Linked DNA regions of Homo sapiens. The protein of the gene in region 1 interacts with the protein of each later gene in a pairwise test. Each region holds a gene or a part of one and is shown on either strand. Other genes may lie near its edges.

The links. Proteins that work in one complex are often made in the same cells at the same time.
Region 2: the proteins of EPCIP (region 1) and PKD1 interact in binary tests that used the Homo sapiens proteins (3 or more experiments, as listed by UniProt).

The regions. Positions count from the first base shown.
Region 1 is NC_000021.9:32,810,671-32,817,826, reverse strand, and holds the start of EPCIP (exosomal polycystin-1-interacting protein precursor), read left to right. Parts: upstream 1-4,123; 5' UTR 4,124-4,235; intron 4,236-7,156. UniProt on the Homo sapiens protein: Likely to be involved with PKD1 in the detection, sequestration and exocytosis of senescent mitochondria.
Region 2 is NC_000016.10:2,104,862-2,111,898, reverse strand, and holds part of PKD1 (polycystin-1 isoform 1 precursor), read left to right. Parts: intron 1-27; coding exon 28-3,647; intron 3,648-3,866; coding exon 3,867-4,016; intron 4,017-4,950; coding exon 4,951-5,094; intron 5,095-5,145; exon of another isoform or gene 5,146-5,221; coding exon 5,222-5,501; intron 5,502-5,594; coding exon 5,595-5,808; intron 5,809-5,874; coding exon 5,875-6,034; intron 6,035-6,424; coding exon 6,425-6,577; intron 6,578-7,037. UniProt on the Homo sapiens protein: Component of a heteromeric calcium-permeable ion channel formed by PKD1 and PKD2 that is activated by interaction between PKD1 and a Wnt family member, such as WNT3A and WNT9B. Both PKD1 and PKD2 are required for channel activity.

The DNA.
Region 1 (7,156 bases):
AATCAAGCAAGATTTGCTTCACTGCAGACTTACACCAGACATTATTTCCAGAAGATCAGTTGTAGAGGGGGGTGTGGATTTTCACTTTTGCTTAATACATTGGATATTATCTGAATGTGCTATCAGAAAAACTGCATTGCTTTTATGATAAAAAATAAAACGGAGAAAGAAAACAAAATTGGTCAAGGACAAAGCTAGAATTCCATCTCATTGTGAACAAACACTTGTCCACCACCCGTTGGCTCCACAGCTGAACAAAACAGGCAGTCTGAGGTGTGGTTTTATTAACCTTCCCAATACTCATTGCTGCTAAATCAACTTAAACTATGTGACCGGTTAACACAAAGAGCCAGTGGAAGTAAATGCTTTAAAAAGACAGGGAGATATAAAACCTGGGGTAAATGTTTAACATGCCATACACAGGGCCCCAGCCACATTCCATCAGCAGCTGCATGTTTGGCCTTCAAGTTTCCAGGGAAGTACCTGGCTCTTCACACTCTTTGCCTTCAGCCAGGAACCCCACTAAGCAAGAGGTCCTGGAAGGCATCCGAGTCATAAATAGAGAAAGTCACAAAGAGTAATCAATATAGTAGCTACCATTACTGGCTGCCTTATTTGTGCTCAGTTTACACTAAATACCTTATGCTGTTTATCTTAGTCATTAAAATAAAGAAGTAGAAGAGACAGTACCAGCAAACTTCCACTTACCTTGTATAGTAGGCCATTCTCGCCTTGCTATAAAGAAATACCTGAGACCGGGTAATTTATAAAGAAAAGAGGTTTAATTGTCTCATGGTTGTGTGGGCTGTACAGGAAGCATAGCAGCATCTGCTTGGCTTCTGAAGAGGCCTCAGGAAACTTACAATCGTGGAGAAGGTGAATGGGGAGCAGGTGTGTCCCATGGGGAAAGCAGGAGTAGGTGTGGGGAAGTGCCACACACTTTTAAACAACCAGATCTCATGAGAACTCACTATCGTGAGGACAGCATCAAGCATTCATGAGAAATCCACCCTCATGATCCAATCATCTCCCACCAGGCCCCACCTCCAACATTGGGGATTACAATTCCACATGATATTTGGGCGGGGACATATATCCAAACTCTGTCACCTTGTATTGGACAGAATTAAGGCACTAGTATATAATTCAGGGTTCTTGGTTACAGGCAACAGAGTCTACTCTAGCTGGTTTAAACCAGGAATTTCTTCAGATATACAGATACTGCCTTGAGTCATTGGAAGGACTGAAGAAATGGATTCTAGACTGAACTCTGAAAGTCACCATAGAATTGAACCATCATGGGGAGCTACTACCTCATCCACAACCAGGAAGTTGCTGAATTAAGAGGCCACATTCTCCAACAGGAAGTTAGTGCCACAGTCCTCAGCTCTTGAGCCATGCCATATTGGCCACAACCAGTCAACAACTCAGTCAGAAGGCCACCCCCACAACAGACCATGCCATATCTGCTGAGACCCTGGCCAGCAAGAGATTCCCAGTACTCTCCTCTCTCTTCTCACTTAATTCATTCCCAAAGTCTCAGGATCCTCTCTCCACGTGACTTCATTCTGAATCAAGTATAAATAATAAAACTTAAATCCCATCTGAAACCTCAGCTTCAAGAGACTCTGTTGTGTTGAATAATAGAGATTTCCAGTCTCTACAGTAGAGGCAGGCAAGACAGAAAGATGTTGAAATAGAGGTTGAGTACGCCAAACCATTGGATTAGCCACAGTTGCTCTGGAAAGTTGGGGTATTCGGTGTATTGTTGGCCAGCCTTTCCCTCCCTCATCTTCAGGCATCCAGTGCACATATATTATCTCATTTTTTCCTCAGCTCTACCTTTCAACAAAGTATTATTATACCCACTTTATAGATAAGGAAACTGAGGCTTATAAAGTTTAAATAATGTGCAAGAAGGTAACAGACTCAAGGTTTGAACCAAGATCCACTTTGCTATTCTTACATGGTAGAATTCATATATGTGCTTTGCTGAAACTGATCACCCAACAATAGCAGCCTCTCTCTATTCTCAATTCCCTTTATTCTGGCTGTGATTCACTGGCTTTCCAAATGGCTGAATAGGCCTGGGACTCTTCCACCTCCAAACCTTTGCTCCAGCAATTTTCTTAATTACTTGAGTTCCTTTATCCTGTGGGCCACCGAGAAGCCATTTGTGCCAGGCTCTCTGGGTGCAGAAAGGAGGAAGGATATATCCATCAGCTTGGATCCGCAGTTCATCAAATAATCACTCCATGAGAGATCGTTGTCCTTTCCCCCACATCTGACCATGCAGATCTCAGCCATCCCTTAAGGCCTAGATCCAAAACTACCTCTCCCCAAGGACTTCACCAGTCTCCCTGGCAAAGGCCGACCTTCACTGGGATTCCCCTGCATTGTGTCTGTATCTCCCTTCAAACATTTCCCAGATGCAACTTACATAATTGCCCCTCCTATAGTATAACTTCCTTAAAGACAAGAACCATGACATTGATCTCTGTGCCCCTTAAATCTCCTGGCACAGTGCATGTGTGTGGTAAGGATTCAGTAGATGAATAATAAATAAATGAATGAATAAATTTCCCTACTGAGGTGCTCTCTTCTTTAACATATTGGAGAATCTGTATCTGGGTAATTACAAATCAATTGCTCCAGACTCCTAGTGCTTTTAATTAGCAAGATTTTTCTTTATCTCAGCAGTCCCCTTCTTGGCACTAGAGACCAGTTTCATGGAAGATAATTTTTCCACAGACAGGCAGGGGTAGGAGGTGGTTTGGGGATGATTCAAGCGATTACATTTATTGTGCACTTTGTATTATTATTGCATTATAATATATAATGAAATACTTATACCACTCACCATAATGTAGAATCAGTGAGAGCCCTGAGCTTGTTTTCTTGCAACTAGACTGTCCCATCTAGGGGTGATGGGAGACAGTGACAGATCATCAGGCATTAGATTCTCATATGGAGCATGCAACCTAGATCCCTCGCATACACAGTTCACAATAGTTCACAATAGAATAGCATTCTCAATTCAATCCTATGAGAATCTAATGCCACTGCTGATCTGACAGAAGGCAGAGCTCAGGTGGTAATGTGATTGATAGGGAGCGGCTGTAAATACAGATGAAGCTTCTTCTCTTGCTCACCCACTGCTCAACTCCTACTGTAGCATGGACTGGTACCAGTCCGTGGCCTGGAGATCGGGGACCCCTGCCTTATCTTTTTTTCCCATATTTAGTGAGACTTCATCAGTTGTTAAGGCCCAGGTATTTATCTTCCCTTAAAATACATATATTGAAACCTAATCCTTAATGTGATAGCATAGGAGGTGGAGATGTTGGAATGTGATTAGGTCATGAGGGTGGAGCCCTTATGAATGGGATTAGTGCCCTTGTAAGAAGCTGAAGAAACCACAGTTTCCCTTCCACCATGTAAGGACTCAGCTAGAAGGTGCCATCTATGAACCAGGAAGCAGACCCTCACCAGAAAACAAATCTGCCTTGATCTTGGCCTTCCCAGCCTACAGAAATAAATATGTTGTTTGTAAGTTACCCAACTAATGGTATTTTGTTATAGAAGCCCACATGGACTATCAGTTAATGTACATAGAATAATTGTTACCTATTTATTGGTTTTGTGGCTTCTAATATTTTTTTAAATGAATTTTAAAAAAGACAGAGAATAATGTCTATCTTTGGAGTTCAAATGAGTTTTTTTTCTTTGGAACAACTACGATAGGACACTTTATACAGTAGTGCAGGCATTTACCATAAGTAACAATTCATCAGACCAAAAAAGGTGGAATAAATCATGAAAGTAAAAGTATCAAGGAGTCTCCGTACTCTACATTTAATCCATTCAATTTCCTGCTAAAGTAGAATTTCTTCCATTTGTGTCAATCCTTTGGGATCAGCCTACAGCAACAGTCTCCTCAGTTTCTTCTAGAAACTTCCCAGTTTAGAACCCCAAAAGAGTGGTCAGCAGTCACCAAGGCAGGTTCTCTCCTGCGTGTAGTTAATGAGACTGGTAGGCCAGCAGCTTCCTCCTGGTTGCCATGGAAATGACCAGGCTGCTGGCCCTCCGAAGACGGAAAAGAACAGCAAGTGCAAGACCACGCATTCCACCCTGGCTTGCAGATTAAACCAGCTGTCAAGCCAGGGTGAAGGATCCGTGGCCAGGCAGAGGTCTGTGGAGTGGAGAGGCGAGGCCTCACGGTGGAACTCTCAGATGTAAGTAATTTCTGTGTTCTTCTTTTTTAAAAAGCATGTCTAGTCTGACAGTTTTTCAGAGCTTCAGAATTTCTGCTGCATGGCAGGAACTGTGACGGTTGGAAGAACCATTGTCAGGGTCACCTTCTTGTTGCATTTGCATTTCCTGAACATAATGTACATGTATGAGTGGCTTTCACTATGAAACACTTTTTTAGGCTTCCAGGCATATGAATTCCTCTTTACTGAGATTCTGCCTTTAAAATGAAAGATTTTCAGTGCATTAAGCAAAGAATGACATGGTCTTCTCATTTAAACCCTAAAAAGATAAACTCACTTAAAGCTAATATAACAGATAGCTCCTTGAAATCTTGTCTCTATTTTAAAACATCTGGCTAGACTTTTCCATTAGTCTTCAATGCTAAATAACAATTAAGGAAAAGAGATATGATATCTCTTTTCCTTATTGTGATCACAAACAAAGAAAAGTGAGAACTCCCAAAACACCGGCTGATACTGTTTCTTTGCTCTGTTTTATCTTTTAATAATATTATATTTACTGCCTATTTACACACCAGGCTTTATAGAGTTTGCTGATTAGAAAACAAAGAAAAGAAAGTAAGCTAAGATGAGCATTAACATTTGGATTGGATAGTTCGTGTTTTTAAAAAATTGGTCTTTTATTCAAAAGTGAAAAAGCATGATAAATAATGTAGCAAAAGGCAAGATGAAGAGGGGAATGTTTTAATTCAAAATGAGTAGAACATATACAGTCTTGCATTTATTTCTTTGTTTAATAAGCATATTTTTGGAAAGCTTTTAGCAAAAAGTATGTTGGTGTATACTGAGGACAGGAAATGTTTCAAAAACATTGTGCATAATATTTATAAAAAACCCACCCTTAAAAAATACCAAAAAAAAGACTTCATTTGTTTGAAAATTTTTTACCGAAAAGAGCCATCCTTGAGAAGTTTTTTGCTTTTTTTTAGTCTAAATAATGCAATATGTTTGGAAGGAAAAAAAAAGACTTTTCATTACTTTTTTTTCTGACAGAAATTGGGCATTTTCTGAAAATAACAGTTTCAATAAAGTATTTATGGAAATGAGTGCTTTTCAAGAGCTGACTTGGATTTCTCATCTTTCTTTTCCACACTAATATTTTTCACTGCTTAAAGCTGCCACATTATCAGCTTTTAAAATTCAGTGCCCAGTGGCTTGTGTCTGTGTCTGTGGGAGCTAATAGGTCAATAGGCCCCAGTGGGAAGAACAGGCAGGCCTCACAGTTCTGTGGGCGTGGGACCAAGGGGCAGCTGTGCAAAGCTGTGGATGTGAACCCCAGTGATGCAATTAACTGAGTGTCTACCAAGTCACTCAAGGGGAAAGCCTGAAGGATTTGCACTCATTGCCTAATTCACTCTCTCAAGGACTGTGTCAAGTAGAAAAGTACGGTAGCCACATATTTTAGTTAGGACTTCCCAGTGGCTCACTCTCTGAGAATTCTTTGTCCCACATTCCATACCTATGTTAGCAGAAGCAGCACTCTGCTCATATTGTCCTCTATTCTGATTATGAACTTAAGAACAGAAATTTCTTTCTTATGGTTCTGGAGACTGGGAATTCCAAGGTCAAGGGGCCTGCATCTGGCAAGGGCATTCTTGCTGTTTCATTCCATGGTGGAAGGTGAAAGGGCAAGAGAACATGTGCACACACATAAGAGAGACAGAGAGAAAGGGGGTCAAATTCATCCTTTTATTTGAAACCTATTCCCATGGTGACCAACCCACTCCTCAATAACAGCATTAATCCATTCATGAGGGCACCGCCCTCTTAAAGGTCACCCCTTAAAGCTCCCACTTCTCAACACTGTTGCACTGGGGATTAAGTTTCCAACACGTGAACTTTAGGAAACACATTCAAATCATAGCATTTAGCATGAGGGTTCTATACACATATAGGTTAAAGGCTACAGCATCTAGTAATAGAATACAATGCATGGAATCTCACTTGAATAGGCCCAAGACCCTGGGGTAGGAAATAGCGCTGTAATTTCCACCATGACTCTTCAGAGTATAGTTGGCTGTCTGGGTTCAAATTTTAGCCATTATTAACTAGTTCTGTGACCTTGGACAAGTTATTTAACCTCCCTGAGTACCCATGTATCATTTCCTGATATGAAAATGGGACCATATGCAGTGGCTCATGCTTGTAACCCCAGCACTTTGAGAGGCTGTGGTGGGTGGATCACTTGAGGTCAGGAGTTCGAGACCAGCCTGGCCAAAATGGCGAAACCCAGTCTGTACTAAAAATACAAAAATTAGCTGGGCGTGGTGGTGCAACACCTATAATGCCAACTACTCGGGAGGTTGAGGCAGGAGAATTACTTGAATCCGGGATGCAGAGGTTGCAGTGAGCCGAGATAGTGCCACTGCACTCCAGCCTGGGTGACAGACTGAGACTCGGTCTAAAAAAAAAAGGGGAGGGGGGGCCATAATATCTACCTGTAGGATTACAGAAAGGATTAAATAACATAAAACACGTGAAACACTTAACAGTACCTGGCACAAAAGAAACACTCATTAGATCTTACTATTAGTGAATAAAAATATGGATAGTTCCTGATTTCATTCAATTTTCAGTATACAACATACATGTATCACATTTTATATATTATAGTATGTTGCCTCTTTATCAATGACAATTTGCTGTATTTAGCTAGCTTAGCCTTGGGAACACAGGGCTGAGGAACAGTGAATTACTGGTACAGTAACATTTCTCATAGGAGTCTGAACTTTCTTGGGAATCAGGAGCTGTGTATTTGGCATGTTAAGTTGGAGATGTCTACTAGACATTCAGAAAGAGCTATCAGATACAATGTGGGACATGTGAGCATGATGCAGTCAGGAGCTAGAGACGTATCTCAGTTCACCATCAGCATCTAGGTG
Region 2 (7,037 bases), on another chromosome or scaffold:
CTGCCCCACTCGGGCCTGTCCCCACAGGTGAGTACCTCCTGACCGTGCTGGCATCTAATGCCTTCGAGAACCTGACGCAGCAGGTGCCTGTGAGCGTGCGCGCCTCCCTGCCCTCCGTGGCTGTGGGTGTGAGTGACGGCGTCCTGGTGGCCGGCCGGCCCGTCACCTTCTACCCGCACCCGCTGCCCTCGCCTGGGGGTGTTCTTTACACGTGGGACTTCGGGGACGGCTCCCCTGTCCTGACCCAGAGCCAGCCGGCTGCCAACCACACCTATGCCTCGAGGGGCACCTACCACGTGCGCCTGGAGGTCAACAACACGGTGAGCGGTGCGGCGGCCCAGGCGGATGTGCGCGTCTTTGAGGAGCTCCGCGGACTCAGCGTGGACATGAGCCTGGCCGTGGAGCAGGGCGCCCCCGTGGTGGTCAGCGCCGCGGTGCAGACGGGCGACAACATCACGTGGACCTTCGACATGGGGGACGGCACCGTGCTGTCGGGCCCGGAGGCAACAGTGGAGCATGTGTACCTGCGGGCACAGAACTGCACAGTGACCGTGGGTGCGGCCAGCCCCGCCGGCCACCTGGCCCGGAGCCTGCACGTGCTGGTCTTCGTCCTGGAGGTGCTGCGCGTTGAACCCGCCGCCTGCATCCCCACGCAGCCTGACGCGCGGCTCACGGCCTACGTCACCGGGAACCCGGCCCACTACCTCTTCGACTGGACCTTCGGGGATGGCTCCTCCAACACGACCGTGCGGGGGTGCCCGACGGTGACACACAACTTCACGCGGAGCGGCACGTTCCCCCTGGCGCTGGTGCTGTCCAGCCGCGTGAACAGGGCGCATTACTTCACCAGCATCTGCGTGGAGCCAGAGGTGGGCAACGTCACCCTGCAGCCAGAGAGGCAGTTTGTGCAGCTCGGGGACGAGGCCTGGCTGGTGGCATGTGCCTGGCCCCCGTTCCCCTACCGCTACACCTGGGACTTTGGCACCGAGGAAGCCGCCCCCACCCGTGCCAGGGGCCCTGAGGTGACGTTCATCTACCGAGACCCAGGCTCCTATCTTGTGACAGTCACCGCGTCCAACAACATCTCTGCTGCCAATGACTCAGCCCTGGTGGAGGTGCAGGAGCCCGTGCTGGTCACCAGCATCAAGGTCAATGGCTCCCTTGGGCTGGAGCTGCAGCAGCCGTACCTGTTCTCTGCTGTGGGCCGTGGGCGCCCCGCCAGCTACCTGTGGGATCTGGGGGACGGTGGGTGGCTCGAGGGTCCGGAGGTCACCCACGCTTACAACAGCACAGGTGACTTCACCGTTAGGGTGGCCGGCTGGAATGAGGTGAGCCGCAGCGAGGCCTGGCTCAATGTGACGGTGAAGCGGCGCGTGCGGGGGCTCGTCGTCAATGCAAGCCGCACGGTGGTGCCCCTGAATGGGAGCGTGAGCTTCAGCACGTCGCTGGAGGCCGGCAGTGATGTGCGCTATTCCTGGGTGCTCTGTGACCGCTGCACGCCCATCCCTGGGGGTCCTACCATCTCTTACACCTTCCGCTCCGTGGGCACCTTCAATATCATCGTCACGGCTGAGAACGAGGTGGGCTCCGCCCAGGACAGCATCTTCGTCTATGTCCTGCAGCTCATAGAGGGGCTGCAGGTGGTGGGCGGTGGCCGCTACTTCCCCACCAACCACACGGTACAGCTGCAGGCCGTGGTTAGGGATGGCACCAACGTCTCCTACAGCTGGACTGCCTGGAGGGACAGGGGCCCGGCCCTGGCCGGCAGCGGCAAAGGCTTCTCGCTCACCGTGCTCGAGGCCGGCACCTACCATGTGCAGCTGCGGGCCACCAACATGCTGGGCAGCGCCTGGGCCGACTGCACCATGGACTTCGTGGAGCCTGTGGGGTGGCTGATGGTGGCCGCCTCCCCGAACCCAGCTGCCGTCAACACAAGCGTCACCCTCAGTGCCGAGCTGGCTGGTGGCAGTGGTGTCGTATACACTTGGTCCTTGGAGGAGGGGCTGAGCTGGGAGACCTCCGAGCCATTTACCACCCATAGCTTCCCCACACCCGGCCTGCACTTGGTCACCATGACGGCAGGGAACCCGCTGGGCTCAGCCAACGCCACCGTGGAAGTGGATGTGCAGGTGCCTGTGAGTGGCCTCAGCATCAGGGCCAGCGAGCCCGGAGGCAGCTTCGTGGCGGCCGGGTCCTCTGTGCCCTTTTGGGGGCAGCTGGCCACGGGCACCAATGTGAGCTGGTGCTGGGCTGTGCCCGGCGGCAGCAGCAAGCGTGGCCCTCATGTCACCATGGTCTTCCCGGATGCTGGCACCTTCTCCATCCGGCTCAATGCCTCCAACGCAGTCAGCTGGGTCTCAGCCACGTACAACCTCACGGCGGAGGAGCCCATCGTGGGCCTGGTGCTGTGGGCCAGCAGCAAGGTGGTGGCGCCCGGGCAGCTGGTCCATTTTCAGATCCTGCTGGCTGCCGGCTCAGCTGTCACCTTCCGCCTGCAGGTCGGCGGGGCCAACCCCGAGGTGCTCCCCGGGCCCCGTTTCTCCCACAGCTTCCCCCGCGTCGGAGACCACGTGGTGAGCGTGCGGGGCAAAAACCACGTGAGCTGGGCCCAGGCGCAGGTGCGCATCGTGGTGCTGGAGGCCGTGAGTGGGCTGCAGGTGCCCAACTGCTGCGAGCCTGGCATCGCCACGGGCACTGAGAGGAACTTCACAGCCCGCGTGCAGCGCGGCTCTCGGGTCGCCTACGCCTGGTACTTCTCGCTGCAGAAGGTCCAGGGCGACTCGCTGGTCATCCTGTCGGGCCGCGACGTCACCTACACGCCCGTGGCCGCGGGGCTGTTGGAGATCCAGGTGCGCGCCTTCAACGCCCTGGGCAGTGAGAACCGCACGCTGGTGCTGGAGGTTCAGGACGCCGTCCAGTATGTGGCCCTGCAGAGCGGCCCCTGCTTCACCAACCGCTCGGCGCAGTTTGAGGCCGCCACCAGCCCCAGCCCCCGGCGTGTGGCCTACCACTGGGACTTTGGGGATGGGTCGCCAGGGCAGGACACAGATGAGCCCAGGGCCGAGCACTCCTACCTGAGGCCTGGGGACTACCGCGTGCAGGTGAACGCCTCCAACCTGGTGAGCTTCTTCGTGGCGCAGGCCACGGTGACCGTCCAGGTGCTGGCCTGCCGGGAGCCGGAGGTGGACGTGGTCCTGCCCCTGCAGGTGCTGATGCGGCGATCACAGCGCAACTACTTGGAGGCCCACGTTGACCTGCGCGACTGCGTCACCTACCAGACTGAGTACCGCTGGGAGGTGTATCGCACCGCCAGCTGCCAGCGGCCGGGGCGCCCAGCGCGTGTGGCCCTGCCCGGCGTGGACGTGAGCCGGCCTCGGCTGGTGCTGCCGCGGCTGGCGCTGCCTGTGGGGCACTACTGCTTTGTGTTTGTCGTGTCATTTGGGGACACGCCACTGACACAGAGCATCCAGGCCAATGTGACGGTGGCCCCCGAGCGCCTGGTGCCCATCATTGAGGGTGGCTCATACCGCGTGTGGTCAGACACACGGGACCTGGTGCTGGATGGGAGCGAGTCCTACGACCCCAACCTGGAGGACGGCGACCAGACGCCGCTCAGTTTCCACTGGGCCTGTGTGGCTTCGACACAGGTCAGTGCGTGGCAGGGCCGTCCTCCATGCCCCTCACCCGTCCACACCCATGAGCCCAGAGAACACCCAGCTTGCCACCAGGGCTGGCCCGTCCTCAGTGCCTGGTGGGCCCCGTCCCAGCATGGGGAGGGGGTCTCCCGCGCTGTCTCCTGGGCCGGGCTCTGCTTTAAAACTGGATGGGGCTCTCAGGCCACGTCGCCCCTTGTTCTCGGCCTGCAGAGGGAGGCTGGCGGGTGTGCGCTGAACTTTGGGCCCCGCGGGAGCAGCACGGTCACCATTCCACGGGAGCGGCTGGCGGCTGGCGTGGAGTACACCTTCAGCCTGACCGTGTGGAAGGCCGGCCGCAAGGAGGAGGCCACCAACCAGACGGTGGGTGCCGCCCGCCCCTCGGCCACTTGCCTTGGACAGCCCAGCCTCCCTGGTCATCTACTGTTTTCCGTGTTTTAGTGCTGGTGGAGGCCGCACGCTCTCCCCTCTCTGTTTCTGATGCAAATTCTATGTAACACGACAGCCTGCTTCAGCTTTGCTTCCTTCCAAACCTGCCACAGTTCCACGTACAGTCTTCAAGCCACATATGCTCTAGTGGCAAAAGCTACACAGTCCCCTAGCAATACCAACAGTGAGGAAGAGCCCCTTCCCACCCCAGAGGTAGCCACTGTCCCCAGCCCATGTCCCTGTTGCTGGATGTGGTGGGCCGGTTCTCACCCTCACGCTCCCCTCTCTGGACCGGCCAGGAGGCTTGGTGACCCTGAGCCCGTGGTGGCTGCTCCTGCTGCTGTCAGGCGGGGCCTGCTGGTGCCCCAGAGTGGGCGTCTGTTCCCCAGTCCCTGCTTTCCTCAGCTGGCCTGATTGGGGGTCTTCCCAGAGGGGTCGTCTGAGGGGAGGGTGTGGGAGCAGGTTCCATCCCAGCTCAGCCTCCTGACCCAGGCCCTGGCTAAGGGCTGCAGGAGTCTGTGAGTCAGGCCTACGTGGCAGCTGCGGTCCTCACACCCACACATACGTCTCTTCTCACACGCATCCCCCCAGGGGCCCTCAGTGAGCATTGCCTGCCTCCTGCTAGGGTCCAGCTGGGTCCAGTACACCAGAACGCACACTCCAGTGTCCTCTGCCCTGTGTATGCCCTTCCGCCGTCCAAGTTGGAAGGTGGCAAACCGGATGAGTATCCTGGGAGGGAGTGAGCTCACCGGCAGTGGCCAGGCCCCTGGGAAACCTGGAGTTTGGGAGCAGCATCCTCCATGGGTCCCCCAGTCCTTCCAGCAGGCCAAATAGACCTGTGTTGGAGGTAACCCCACTCCCACGCCAGGTGCTGATCCGGAGTGGCCGGGTGCCCATTGTGTCCTTGGAGTGTGTGTCCTGCAAGGCACAGGCCGTGTACGAAGTGAGCCGCAGCTCCTACGTGTACTTGGAGGGCCGCTGCCTCAATTGCAGCAGCGGCTCCAAGCGAGGGGTGAGTGTTGAGCGGGGTGTGGGCGGGCTGGGGATGGGTCCCATGGCCGAGGGGACGGGGCCTGCAGGCAGAAGTGGGGCTGACAGGGCAGAGGGTTGCGCCCCCTCACCACCCCTTCTGCCTGCAGCGGTGGGCTGCACGTACGTTCAGCAACAAGACGCTGGTGCTGGATGAGACCACCACATCCACGGGCAGTGCAGGCATGCGACTGGTGCTGCGGCGGGGCGTGCTGCGGGACGGCGAGGGATACACCTTCACGCTCACGGTGCTGGGCCGCTCTGGCGAGGAGGAGGGCTGCGCCTCCATCCGCCTGTCCCCCAACCGCCCGCCGCTGGGGGGCTCTTGCCGCCTCTTCCCACTGGGCGCTGTGCACGCCCTCACCACCAAGGTGCACTTCGAATGCACGGGTGAGTGCAGGCCTGCGTGGGGGGAGCAGCGGGATCCCCCGACTCTGTGACGTCACGGAGCCCTCCCGTGATGCCGTGGGGACCGTCCCTCAGGCTGGCATGACGCGGAGGATGCTGGCGCCCCGCTGGTGTACGCCCTGCTGCTGCGGCGCTGTCGCCAGGGCCACTGCGAGGAGTTCTGTGTCTACAAGGGCAGCCTCTCCAGCTACGGAGCCGTGCTGCCCCCGGGTTTCAGGCCACACTTCGAGGTGGGCCTGGCCGTGGTGGTGCAGGACCAGCTGGGAGCCGCTGTGGTCGCCCTCAACAGGTGAGCCAGGCCGTGGGAGGGCGCCCCCGAGACTGCCACCTGCTCACCACCCCCCTCTGCTCGTAGGTCTTTGGCCATCACCCTCCCAGAGCCCAACGGCAGCGCAACGGGGCTCACAGTCTGGCTGCACGGGCTCACCGCTAGTGTGCTCCCAGGGCTGCTGCGGCAGGCCGATCCCCAGCACGTCATCGAGTACTCGTTGGCCCTGGTCACCGTGCTGAACGAGGTGAGTGCAGCCTGGGAGGGGACGTCACATCTGCTGCATGCGTGCTTGGGACCAAGACCTGTACCCCTGCCTGGAGCTTTGCAGAGGGCTCATCCCGGGCCCCAGAGATAAATCCCAGTGACCCTGAAGCAGCACCCCGACCTTCCGCTCCCAGCAGCCACACCCACCGGGCCCTCTCCGGCGTCTGCTTTCCACAATGCAGCCCCCGCCCAGGAGGGCCCATGTGCTTACCCTGTTTTGCCCATGAAGAAACAGCTCAGTGTTGTGGGTCAGTGCCCGCATCACACAGCGTCTAGCACGTAACTGCACCCCGGGAGTCGTGGGCATCTGCTGGCCTCCTGCCGGCCTCCTGCGCTGCTGACAGCTTGCTGTGCCCCCTGCCTGCCCCAGTACGAGCGGGCCCTGGACGTGGCGGCAGAGCCCAAGCACGAGCGGCAGCACCGAGCCCAGATACGCAAGAACATCACGGAGACTCTGGTGTCCCTGAGGGTCCACACTGTGGATGACATCCAGCAGATCGCTGCTGCGCTGGCCCAGTGCATGGTAGGATGGCCCCACCTGCTCACCCTGCCCCGCATGCCTGCCAGGGCACTGGGTTCAGCCCCCCAGGGCAGACGGGCAGCTTGGCCGAGGAGCTGAGCCTCCAGCCTGGGCTCCTTCCTGCCATGGCGTTCCTCGGTCTCTGACCTGCTTCAGTAGCCTCAGCCGTTCTGTCCTGTGTGAACGCAGGGTGCCTCTCGGGGGACCCAGGGTGTAAAGAGGGGCCCAGATGTGGGGAGGGACTAAGAAGATGCTGCTCTGTGCCCTCCACTCTCCCCTCCCCTCCCCTCCCCCTTCCCTCCCCTAGCCCCTCCCCTCCTCCCCTCCCCTAGCCCTTCCCCTCCTCCCCTCCCCTAGCCCTTTCCCTTCTTCCCCCCCAGCCCTTCCCCTCCTCCCCTCCCCTTTTTCTCCACTCCCCTCTCCTCTCTCCCCTCCTCCTCCGCTCTCATGTGAAGAGGTGCCT